Regions from separate parts of the Homo sapiens genome. Here region 1 is linked to region 2. A link means that fine-mapping ties the variant in region 2 to the expression of a gene that starts in the linked region. Tissue or cell type: whole blood. Region 2 holds a variant in brackets; the other region holds the start of a gene. All regions are shown on one strand. Distances are between the middles of the regions.

Evidence for each region. PIP is the estimated chance that this variant, and not a neighbour inherited with it, causes the effect.
Region 1: it holds the start of FBXO2, and the variant in region 2 is fine-mapped to the expression of FBXO2 in whole blood (TOPMed, PIP above 0.99).

The regions. Positions count from the first base shown.
Region 1 is chr1:11,651,584-11,656,583 of GRCh38, reverse strand. FBXO2 (F-box protein 2) reads left to right here and starts at 2,155. Exons shown (of 6, transcript NM_012168.6): 1 at 2,155-2,265. The coding sequence starts at 2,244. It overlaps FBXO44 (F-box protein 44), which reads right to left and starts at 1,707. Exons shown (of 6, transcript NM_033182.7): 1 at 1,632-1,707; 2 at 484-778. The coding sequence starts at 748. RefSeq lists silencers at 1,476-1,545, 1,596-1,825, 2,066-2,205.
Region 2 is chr1:11,468,393-11,476,181 of GRCh38, reverse strand. No RefSeq gene overlaps it. Among named protein-coding and RNA genes, the nearest start is that of DISP3, 6.9 kb to the left of the region's middle. The variant A/G (reference allele first, on the strand shown) is at 3,924.

The sequences.
Region 1 (5,000 bases), 180 kb before region 2:
AGGCTGAGGCAGGAGAATCGCTTGAACCCAGGAGGTGGAGGTTGCAGTGAGCCGAGATCGCACCATTGCACTCCAGCTTGGGCAACAGAGCGAGACTCCATCTAAAAAAAAAAAAAAAATTAGCCAGGTGTGGTGGCACATGCCTGTAATCCCAGCTACTTGGGAGGCTGAACTTGGGAGGTGGAGGTTACAGTGAGCCAAGATTGTGTCACTGTACTCCAGCCTGGGTGACAGAGTGAAACTCCGTCTCAAAAAAAAAAAAAAAAAAAAAAGAGTATAGTAAGAATAAGAAACACCACTCTTGGCCTCAGTTTGCCCATCTGAAAAATGTGTGCACTAACAGTAGCTACCTCTTTGGGTTACTGTGAGAGAAGTAAAGGTGTTAAACCATCCAAAGTACCCGGCTCATACTAAGTGCTCAATACATGTTCCTGGTGTCATGACTGTGTACTGGAGGCATGCCAGACCCGGCCTGTACCCCACCTTCAGCGCACGGGTTGTGCAGGAGGTTCCTGTGCAGGCTCCGTAAGAAGTAGAAGATCTTCCAGTCGGCCACGGGCTGGTCCCAGTCCTCAGTGATGAAGCCCTCTCGCAGGCACTTGCGTTTCCAGAGGGTCACGAGGTCGATGAGGTCCCGCCAGAGGCTGCAGACCAGGCGGCAGTTCAGCAGCAGCTGGCGGGCGGGCACGTGCGTGAACAGCTCCAGCAGGATGTTCTCGGGCAGCTCGTTGATGTTCCCCACAGCCATGGCTTGTGGCTTCTGGACACCCTCCTGTAGCTGTTGAAAAGCTATGCTGCAGGCCTCATCCCTGCTCTGCCATTTATCTCGGGAGAGCATGGTGCCTCTCCCAGCCTGTTTCCTTCTCTGTAAATGGATGCCTTACCTCCAGGGGTCACTGGGGCGGTCCAAGGAGCTTGGGACACATCAGGTACTTTAATAAAAGGTGAGCTCTGATTTTTTTCTCTGGCCTCTCACAATAGAGGTGGAAGGCACTGCCCAAGGTCAAAAATAAGGGCAGAGGGGGAAGAAGCCCGGATCTTCTTTGATTCCAGGGCCAGCCTTTTTCAGTAGGCCAGTCTTTAATGGGGATATAATGCGCAGCCGGGCAGAGCACCCCAGGCCTCCGGTGCCGTCACCATCCTCTCTCCCATCCTCAGAACATGATGGGAGGAGGAGGCTAATTATCACTGCCTCCCGCGGAGGTCCAAAGGGCTCCAGCCACCTTCTCAAGATCTCAGAGGACATGATCTCCTGCCTAGGTGGGAGTGGCAAGAGGGTGGGCGACAGGGAAGGGCCCTTCCTATCTCCCCACCCCCACTCCCACCCCCAGCCCCGCGGCTGGGCTCCGCCAGCCCCAAGTCCGCCAGCGCGCCTGCAGCCTCCCCTTCCCACGCTGTGCCTTAAAATGCCCCCCAAAGTCTGGGCTCGGACCCCTGTACATCGATGGCGACCCCAGCCCCCGTTCGCAGCCGCGCAGCGCAGCCCGGGCAAGCTCGGCGGCCTGGGCCTGGTCGGTGCCAGGCCTCCCTCGGCAACTGCGGCGCGACCCGGAACCCAGGAGCCTTCCCGGCAGCCCCCGCCCAGCCGCGCCCCCTCCCCAGCGCCCCCCGCGCCCCCTCCTGCCGGTCACCTGCGCTCGGCCGCCGCGGCACGATCCGTTGGGCCGCCCAAGCTGCACCGCCTGGACCTGCGCTTGCCTGGAAAGCGAGGCCCCGCCCCGGCCCGCCAGGCCCCGCCCCCGCGCCCCGCGCCCCGCCCCGCGCAGCGCTGGGCCAGGGACGCACCCCCACCGCGTCGTAGGAAAATTACCTGGTGTGGGGGGTGGGGCGGAAGGCACCTCCTATACTCCGACTCCGCCTGGGCCACCCGCCCCTCACCCTCGGCCTGACCCAGCCTCTCCGTGCCTCCCCTAGCCGCCTCCTCCCAGCAGTCCCCCAGGAGCGAGCTGCGAGATGCCCCAAATCGGACCCCTCCCCAGTTGGAAAAAAAACGACTCCTGACCTTTCCCAGCCTCCTCGGTCCGCTGAGGAACCCGCAGCCCCGGGCCTCGAGCAGACTGCTGGGACTGCGGGGCGGCCGGGCGCGGGGCCAGAGGCGGGGCGGGGCGGGTCGGGTCGGGGGCCTTTAAGAGGCGCGGTCGCCGGGACCGACACAGACGCGGACAGCGCCGGGACTCGCCGCCCCGGGACTCGCGCAGCCCGCAGCGCTCCGGCTCCTCCTCTCGCGACCGCCCTCCGCAGCGATGGACGGAGACGGTGACCCAGGTAGCCGACGCCTGGACCGCTCGCTGCGGCGGGGAGGGGAGATGGGGTCGGCGGGCGAGCGCTGCACAGAGGGGCGTCAGAGAGCGAGGGGACCCGGAGACCTGGCGCGGCAAACTTTCACGCCAGCGAAGCCCTAGAGGCGGTCTCCAAAGAGCACGTCTCTCTGCTATCTTGGTCTGGCGGGAGGCCTTGAGAGGCGACTGGCAAGGAGAGAGAACTCCTGGGTCCCATTTAGCCAGGAAGTAGCACCAGAGGACCCCCACATTCCCGCCTCCCAGCTTCCTGAGGGTCTGTCTGGCGGGGGCCTGGGATGCGTCTGGGAGGGAGGCTGCGAGCCTTTTCTTTCATCAGCTCTTCCAGCTCTGGGCCTTGGGCCGTCTGAATCCCCGTGGGTTCCTTGGGGTCCCAGGCCTGGCCTCACCTATTCCTGCCTTCCTCCTGAGCTCCCTTGTCTGGAGGGGCTGCCCCTCCCCGGGGTGGTGAGATGCCCAGTGGGGACCCGACTAGCGGTGAGGGAGCGTTGGGGGCAGCTTTGGCTGGTGCTCAGGGCCTTCCCAGGCTGCCCAGTCATCCTCTCTGGCACCCAAGACCCCTCACCCCCATCCCTCCAACTCCCTGCGGGGCCTGCAGGGGTTGCCTGCTGAGTCAGGATGGAAACAAGACCTGCCTGCAGACAGCCCTCACTCTTTCCTCATCAGGTCCAGCTGGGGATGGGCATTGCTTGGGTTAGGCGGTGGCAAACAGACTGATGAAAGCTCAGGCCCCCCCTCACCCCCCATTCCCCCGCCTCCAGCCCTGAAAATTCCAGCTCTCGCAGCCCTTGCTCCCAATCCACGGCCTTCTGGCCACACCCTCTGTAGGGCTCCAGAACTGGCTCCTGCTTTTTCCCAGGGATCAGCTATACCCTGGACTCTGGGGCCCACTCCAGGTGAGTGAGTCAGCCTCGCAGGCAGGCAGCTTCCAGGGGCCAGATAACTTTCCGCCGGCAACAATGTGGGGAGTTGTGTGTGTAAGAGAGAGGGTGGGGGGAGCTGTAATTGGATCTGGGGCCTCGAGTGCCAGGCCCCGGGGCCAGAAGAGGGGACTGGGTGAGGTGCACCTTTCGGGGAGCATCAGGTGTCCGATGGGGCCAGGGCCGGAGGGAGGGCTGGAGAGGTGAGGACACTGGGCCTAGCTCCCCAGAGAGCTGTGGGCATCTGCCTGGGCAGGTGATGTGACTTCAGGGCCTGGCATTTTCCTCTGTCTTCCTGCCGTTCTGCGATGTGGTCTGGGAGAAGCTGTTAAGCCTTTTTTGGCCTCAGTTTCCTCTTTGCCAAAGGGGCCGGTGTAAATCCCCACATCATAAAGATGTGGCCAAAAAAATGTTAATAAGGAAGGAGAAGTGCTGTGTTCAATGAGGTTCACTCAGTAAGATTGACTGAGGACTCACTGTGTGCTCTGGGCTCTGTGAAAGCTCTCAAGGGCCTGACTGTGGGTTGGGCAGGGAGGAGAGGCTGCATATGAGGAGGTTAGGGGCTGGTGGGCCTGGAGACTTGGGTCTGGGTCCTGCCACCTGTCCCCTTCCCCAGTGCCTGGCCTGTTCCCACCACCGCCTTGGCTCTCCAGGGCCTAGCCCATGGGAACTCCCCATCCGTAGGTCTGAGAGCTGTAGTCTTCCTGATCACCCAGAGTGGCCCCGTCTCCTCCTCACTGGCTCTCCCTCGTCCAGGCATCTTGGGCACTCGGTGTCCACTTACTCAAGGCTGTGATGGCCCAGCTGAAGCCGACTGGGATGCAAGAGACAGTCCGGCTGCCGCGGTGACATCTGCCTGCCTCCTTACAATTCAGAATGCCCTTGTCCCCTTCCTCAGGGGATTTGGACGTCTGTCCTGTTTGTATGGCCTGGCACAATGATTACCCCCATTTTATAGATGAGAAAACTGAGGGCCACGGATGGGAAAAGGAGGTGGAGAAAGTTTCCTTCCCCAAGCCCCTATGTCATCTCCTTGCTTGATAGAGTTTCTTTTAATAAGTCCCTCCTCATCCCCAAGTCACACAATAGCTGGGGACAGCTGGGTCTCCAGGCTCTGTTCTCCAGCCCCTGAAGGCCCCAGGTCCCATGTCCCCTTCCCTAAATACTGGCAGTGTGTCCTTCAACAAGTCACTTCATCCCTGAGCCTGAGCATTTGCACCTGCAAAGTCAAAATCCTGGCCTGGGTGTAGTGGAGCATGACTGTAATCCCAGAACTTTAGGAGGCCGAGGCAGGAAGATTGCTTGAGTCCAGGAGTTGGAGGTCAGCCTGAGCAACAGAGTGAGACCCTATCTTTAAAAAGAAAAGTCAGCCGGGCGTGGTGGCTGACGCCTTTAATCCCAGCACTTTGGGAGGCTGAGGCGGGTGGATCACCTGAGGTCAGGAGTTTGAGACCAGCCATGCCAACATGGTGAAACCAGTCTCTACTAAAAATACAAAAATTAGCCAGGCGTGGTGGCACATGCCTGTCATCCCAGTACTTGGGAGGCTGAGGCAGAAGAATCGCTTCTCAGCTTCCAGCTACCCGGGAGGCAGAGGTTGCAGTGAGCTGAGATTGAGCAGTGACAGAGCAAGCGAGACTCCATATCAAAAAAAAAAAAAAAGTCAAAATCCTAACACTGCCTACTAATTCAGTGAATTATTCTGTGGAGGCTGTGGTGGTTTAAGATGGCTCTGGAGCCAGGCTGTCTGGGTTCAAATCCAGGCTCCAACCACTGATTAGCC
Region 2 (7,789 bases):
TGTGCAAAAATTGCATTTAGCACAGTTTGTGGCACACATTAAGCACTAAATACACATTAGCAGTTTCTTCATCATATTGTTACCGCTTACTTGGCAAGTGCTGACCATAACACATCTCACTTTTTGTGACACCCCTCCACACCGCCCCGTGAAGGGGGGTTGTATGCAAATCAAGTCCTCCCACCAGATGGGTGAGCAGCTGAGGGTTGAGCATATGGGGAGGGTTGGGAGTGTTTATCTTTTAAAATATGGTATTAAGGCACTGTCCCAGCACCAGGGAATAGAATAAATGGATTTATAAGTAATCCCCTCTTCAATCTGCTAAGGCATTGACTTTGGCGCTCTTGGCCCCCAGCCCCAATCTCACCTTCTCCAGGAAGCCACTGGGCAGAGTCAGGTAGGCTGGGGTATGCTGGAAAGAGCTCTAGATTTAGGAAACTGGGTTTGATTTTTATGTGTGTCTTTTATTAGTATGACCTTGGGCAAGTCACTGCATTTCTCTGAGACTTAGTTTCCTCATCTGCAAAGTGGGAGTCATAATGACCACTGCCAAAAATATTCCTGCTTAATAGTCTCTTCAGCTAAAGTAGAACACAGATTTATAGGTAGCCATTTGATAATTAGTTCTAGATATAGTTATAACTATATATAGGAAGTGATAATAGGATGATTAATCCCTGTTTCCATTATTTTCAGGGTTGATTGCACTTCATGTGACATAATAGACACAAAAAAACTCAAGGAGCTTGCCCAAGTTCCTGGTGAATGAATTTCTGACTCCAAGTCACATAGAAACTTAGTGGAAGAGCTTGGGTTGGACTCCAGTTCTCCCAGCTTCCAGAAACACCATCCTTCCTCTCCCCAGCGCCTTCCTCCCTGAAGCTCTGTTCAGGAGATGAGCATGAGCTTATGGTTGGGGAAAACATTAGAGGGTCTCATAATTAAAGAGAACAGAGAGAGCTCTGAAGAAGGGCCTGAGGAAGGCTGACAGGGCTAGGCTTAGGGCAGGGGTATTGCAGACACGGCCTGGGGGAGGCTGGACAGATGGCAGCTCTCCCCTCCTGCCTCCCCCAGAATTCTGCAAACAGCCAGGCCTAGCACTCCTTTCTCAGCCTTGCCTGCCTCCTCCAAGAGAGCAGGCATCCTGTGCCAGAGTGAGTACAATCCAAGTTATTAATTGCCTGCAACAATTAGCCCCAGCGCCTGGGCCTGCAGACACCCAGGCTCTGAGAGAGGGAGCCAATTACAGCTTCATCAATATTCACGCTGTCGCATAATCCTCTTCCAACAAGACGGCCCCCTTGTCCCCCATCCACATTTCTAGGGGTCTTTGCTCTGACCCCAACATCTGGAGAAGACTAAATATTGCTGAGTTCTTCAAGAGGAAAAGTCACTGGAGGGGTTAGACCCGAGGGGCTATTAGCATAGCAGAGCCAAGGCATTGGCAGGGAAGAGCAGGATCCTGCCAAAGATCTGGACAGTGTGACATTAGCCAAAGACAGTCCCATTGTTGGGGAGAGATTATAACCTCCAGGTTGAGGGTTTTACGTGGATACCCTGAGGGTTCTTATTGATAGAACCGGCCTGAAAGGAGGTCATAAATACCCAAAAAGTTCTAGTTTTAATCCCAGCTCAGTCACATACCAGCTTTGTGGTTTCTGGAGAAGCCCTTTGCATCTCTGAGCTCATGTCCTGACCTGTAAGCTGGGGGCAGTGGCCACCCCTTCCCATGGAGGAGGATTAAGGGACATGCTTTGCAGGGGCACATAGCAGTACAGTGAATGGTACAGAGTGGGCTGGAATAAATGGCTGTGCTTGTGTTTGATCCAGAAAAAGCTCCAGAAGGAGATCTCCTGACCCCCAGAGAAGTATAGGGTGATGGGGAACAAGGCAGATGGGCAGTTAGGAGGCCAGGATGCTGACCCTAGATTTGCTCTAACATGCTCTGTGGTCTTGGTGACCTTCCATCTTTGGCCTCTTGTTTCTATTTGACAGATGAGTACATGAGCTAGATGTGCTCCAGGGCCCCTCTGACTGTGATCTTCCAGGAGAATATGGGAAGACAGAATGAGTTCAGACTGGGTAGGAGGCCACAGGGAATATGCAATCCCCGATTTTCCAAGGAGGTAAACGGGAGCAGTGGTCAATGTGATGGAACCGCCAAAAGTGTGTGAAGGCAGGCACATAAATAGTTAAGCCACAGTCACACATTTGTTGGTTCTGCGGTGGTAAAAGAAACCACATATCTTTTATCAAAACAGAAAATAAAAGTCATCATCTTGTTCAGAACTCCTGGGAAAGGCTGAGTAGAAGTCCCAGCACAGGCCTTGTCCCTGGGGTGTTTCAGAACCATGGACAGTGGCTGCTGGCAGCTGGGGTGGAGATGAGGGCGAAGGGATGAGGGGCAAGAACTCAGCCACCGAGTTGAGTACTCGGAGGCAGTATGATGTTCAGGGTGAGTGATGTTGAGCAGGTCCAGGTTCAAGAATAGCAGTTACAACTGGCTTTTTTTTTTTATGAGGTCTCTCTCTGTCACCCAGGCTGGGGTGCAGTGGTGTGATCACGACTCACAGCAGCCTCGATCTTCCTGGGCTTAGGTAATTTTCTCAGCCTCCTGAGTAGCTAGGGCTACAGGCATGGGCCACCATGCCCAACTAATTTTTTCTTCCGTAGAGATGGGGTTTTGCCATGTTGCCCAGGCTGGTCTCAAACTCCTGGGCTCAAGCAATGTTCCACCTCGGCCTTCCAAAGATTGATGCCCAGACATAAGAAGTGCTCAGTAAATGTCAGCCATTATTATTATTATTATTATATTTTTAGAGACAGAGTTTTAGAGACCTTGGCCTCCCAAAGTGCTAGGAGTACAGTCATGAGCCACCACACCAGGACACACCTGACTTTTGAGTGCCCAGTGGGGTTGCTTAAACCTTCAGAGGGTAGGGGTCTTCCTCTGTGCCCCCTCCTAGGAATATCTAAGGTTCCTGGTGCACCTACCTGTGTACGGGCTCTTCGTGACTCAGCACAGAATCCCAGCCCCACCTCCCCACTCTGCCCTGCTCCTCTGTCTCTCTGGCTTTGGTTTCCCGGCACAAGTTGCCCAGTGCCTTTGACCACCCCAGTCAGCCTGGCTGGCCCACTGGTGCCAGGAGCCAGGTCAGCTTTAACCCTGGCCACCAAATCCCATCTGAGCCTCAGCAGTGACAGCAAGAAAGAGCTTTTCTGGCATCGTCCCAGTCAGGAATCTGTGCAGCTCTGATGGGCTGCCTCAGTGCCAGCTCCTATTCCGGCACTTTCAGTGTAGGCAGGGTGGAGCCTGTTCAGTGCCAGGACCCCTGAACTGACATGTAGGGCTGGTAGGCAGATCATCAGTGTCCTGGCAGTTAAAATACTTTTTTATGCAGCAAGGGATGCTACTAACAACATCAGCAACAATAATCATTAATGGCTGCCATTTCTTGATTGCCAGATCCTATGTATGTATTATTTCCTTCAAACTCACAACCACCCCATGAAGCAAGTCCTCTTATCATCCTCATTTCCAAATGAGGAAATTGAGGTACAGAGAGTAGTAAGTTGCTACAGCAGGTAGCAACCCAGTCAAACCCACCCAGGCAGTTTGACTATAGCCCAAGTTCTATATGACATTATTCTTCCCATTTTACAGTTGGAAAAACTGAGGGTCAGAGAGGTTGAAAGACATGGTGAGGGTCACAGTAATGGAGAGGATTTGAACCCAACGTTGCTGATGCGGTAGATACTGTTTATCTGCTCTACTCTTCTGCTCTCCATGGAACTAAGTCCCTGTTGGGTGCCCACTCTCAGCACTCCCTACTGTGGCACTGAGGTCTCACCCTAAGTCTAATCACAACTAAACTCATCTCCCTGTTCATCCTTAGGGAAGTCACAGCCTCTCTCTGAGCCCA[A/G]TCTACCAAGGGAAACTTTCTAAGGCAGAGCTCACATTCCAACTTGAGAATGGCTTCATTTGATGAGATTCTTCCCTGGAAACCAGCAGAGTCATGCCATCCTGCAAACTGGCAGGGTAGTTTCCAGGACCCAGGAGGGCCGAGTCATGCCCATACTTCCAGGACAAGATGCAGGGGCCAGGGCCACTAGCTGTAAACACACCGTGGGATTGGCATCACCTGGCACAAAATGCCAAGTCATCGCCTAGCCTATCATTTCACAAATGGGGAGACTGAGGCCCAGGGCGGGTGAGCATGGTGGTGTGGTTTCCTCCTGACAGTACTGTCCTTTTGGCCACCCCTCCAAGCCTCTGCGCCCTTCCCAACATCCCTGCATTCTCATTTTGCAGCTGGGCACGACAAAGGACAGCTGTTCTTGCTGGCATCTAGGGCCACATCTGGCAGCAGGATGCAGAAGGAATGCATGAGTGGCCTAAATGGCCACATGGGGAGCAGCCCAGGCCAGGACAGCACAGCTGGCTGTGCTTGGAGAGCTGGGCTGGCAGCAAGTCCTCCTCCTCTACTCCTCCTCCTCCTTCTCTTTTTCCTCCTCCTCCACCTCTTTTTCCTCCTTCTCCACCCCTTCTCCTCTTCCTTCTCCTTGTCTTCTTTCCTGTCTCTCTCCCACACTCCCAAACTCCCTGCCTTCTTTCCTTTACAATCATTCCTTGCTTTGATAATGATGACAGTAAACATTTACTGAGTACTTACTGTGTGACAAGGCCTGTACCATCTTCTTTAATCTTCATAACAACCCTTGGAGAATAATCATCTCTCTTTCACAGATGAGGAAAATATAGGTCAGAGAGGTCAGGGTTTGTATAGCCCAGCTGACTTCGATCCCACACTCTCCTGCTCCTTTGCTCTTTGGGGGACAGTAGCACTTCATCACACATGGGGCAAAAAGACCAGAGATGGTGCCATCCATTCTCTTTTGATCTTGGATGTGTTGTTTGGCAGACGCCTTTTTTTCTTTTAATTTTTATTTAAAACTCTAAGCTGATTTCATCCCCACCCCTAGTGTGCTTCATTCTCTGTTCCTTCTCAACCTCTACTTCCCAATGTGTGTACACACAGCCAGGGGTCAGCTGATGGTCAACATTCCACTGACTCAGGAAAGTGGAACCAGACCATCACATGTGGGACCTAAGTTCAGAGGACTTCCCCTGTCCCCAAGGATGTTGTGGTTGTCATCATTTTCAATCCAATCAAAGGGGCGTGCAGAGCAGGTGGCTCAGAATATGGAGTTTGTGGACAGACATACTTCAGTCTATTCATAGCTGTGTCACTTACTGGCTGGGTGATGTTGGCCAAGTCGCCTCAACTCTCTGAGCCTGTTTCCTCACCTGTAAAATGGAGACAACACCTGCCTCAAAGAGCAGCTGTGAGGATCAAATAAGTCTGTGTGTATAGTGTGACCAGCACATAGCTGTCCCCAGGTAATGTGATTGCCCTACTCCATCTCATTGTGGATCTAAATAACTTGGAAAAACATATTCCTTCCAGCCCGTGGGGGCCCCTGAAGACTCATTTCCTAGGAGTTGTTTCCTCTGCCAAATATTTGGTAGGATTTAGATTACAAGGTAATAGCCAACATTTTTCTATGTGCCCTTTGTGTGATGTGCAAATTGCTCATATCATATATAGAGCATGTAGGTTCAGAGCACAAGCCCTGGAAACCAATGATCTGGGTTCAAATCCCAGCTCCGTCGCTTACTAGCTGTGTGACTTTGGACAGTCACCTAACCTTTCTGTGCATCAATTTCCTCATTGTAAAAGGGGCTAATAGAAGTGCCTACATCTCGATGCTGTGCTAAGAAGTTAGGGGGTGCCTGGAAAGTTGTGAGATCGATGCCCAGACATAAGAAGTGCTCAGTGAATGTCAGCCGTTATCATTATTATTATTATTATTATATTTTTAGAGACAGAGTCTTGTTCTTTGGTCCAGGCTGGAGTACAGTGGTGCCTTCATAGCTCACTGCAACCTCAAATTCCTGGGCTCAAGTAATCCTCCCACCTCAGCTTTCCAAAACATTGGGATTACAGGTATGAGACCACACCTGGCCTCAGCTGTATTATTATTATTATTATTATTTTATTATTTTGAGATGGAGTCTTACTCTGTCACTGAGGATGGAGTGCAATGGCACGATCTTGGCCTACTGCAACCCCCATCTTCTGGGTTCAACCAATTCTCCTGCCTCAGCCTCCCAAGTAGCTGGGATTACAGGTACCCGCCACCACACCTGGCTAATTTTTGTAATTCTAGTAGAGATGGGGTTTCGCCATGTTGGCCAGGCTGGTCTTGAACTCCTGACCTCAAGTGATCCACCTGCCTCGGCCTCCCAAAGTGCTGGGATTACAGGCATGAGCCACTGCACCCAGCCCAGCCATATTATTGTTTTGTCTCCACAATAATCTTGGAAAGTGAGGTTAAGTCATAAGTCCAAGGTCACACAGCTAGTAAATGGCAAAGCCCTTTGAACTGGGGTCTGACTGGTTCCCAGGCCTAAGGGTTTCCCGCTGCAGCCTCATGTCTCTAAGGTTCATGGGTCCCACCTGTGGCTCAGCCAGTCTCCTCCAATGCCACAACCCAGGTGAGCTCCTCTTCCCACTCTCATGCTTTCTCTTGTACCTGCCTCAGCTGGAAGCTTGCCCTTTCTTACTGAATTGTTTATTTCTAAAACACACTCCTCCTTAACTCCAGCTGAGTGCCTTGGGGCTTCCTACGCTTGAAACTTGCTCACTTTGCAGGGTTCCCACGGCATGGGTGCCTGTAGAAACCCCAAATTCAAGTCTTGCTCCCCACTGGGCTCATAGGAGACCTAAGACACTCCAGCCACTCCTGCCGGTCACTTGGGGAGTGTCTGTTGCTCCAAGCACTGCATGTCCCCCACCCCACTGCCTGAGGGACAGACACAGCCCTGACATTGAACATGGCACTCAAGGTCTGCTCCTCCTCAATGACGTCTCTCTGACCCCATTAATTGGCAGTCCCTGTCCACACCCCCAGCAGCCCCGACCCGCCTGGCTTGATTGTTGCTCAAACATGCCGGCTCCTTCCTGCCTCCCAGCCCTTCCCCACACCACTCCCTCTACCTGGAGTGCTCCTTCCCTTCTTCCCTACCAGTGGGAATATTACTCATCCTTAGGGCCCAGCACATCCTTTCCATGGGGAAGCCACCCCCACGCCCTACCCTACTCTTTCCCCCAGAGAGCCTTCAATTCTCTCTCCTCTTTGCTCCTGGAACAATTTCACACATCTATTTCTGCATTTATCATAGGCTGATGTGTTTTCTATATACAGTCTGTTGTCTAAGCGTGAGGGTGCATGATGACTCTCTAGGGGGGCCACTCCCCAGGCCAGGGCTGGGGTACGGGGGAGGCAGATCATAAGCAGCAGAGCCAGGCCCATCTACTCCAGGACCTGGCTCATAGGTCTGAAGCTGGGGTCAGACCATATTCTTCTCATTTTAGAGATGGGACAATGGAGGAACGACTCTCTCATGATCATATGGTGCTTCCTGGGGGATGGCTGAACCTAGGCTTCCAACTCCTAATCCTGCAGGGCTCCCAAAGTCCCAGTTTCAGGGCTGGGCTGATCCATACCAGAACCTCTAATCCTCCTCATCAGCTATTGCCACAACAGGCTGTGCTTCTGAATCTCAGCAGCATTTAACAATTAACACCAATAATTTGCTCACAGGTCTAGAAGCTAGCAGGGAGCTCTGCTTCAGGCTGTAGGTAGCTCAAGTCTGCTCCACTTGTCATATTAGGGGCCAAGGCTACCCTGGTCAAGTTCCTTTTCTGGCTACAGCAGGAGAATG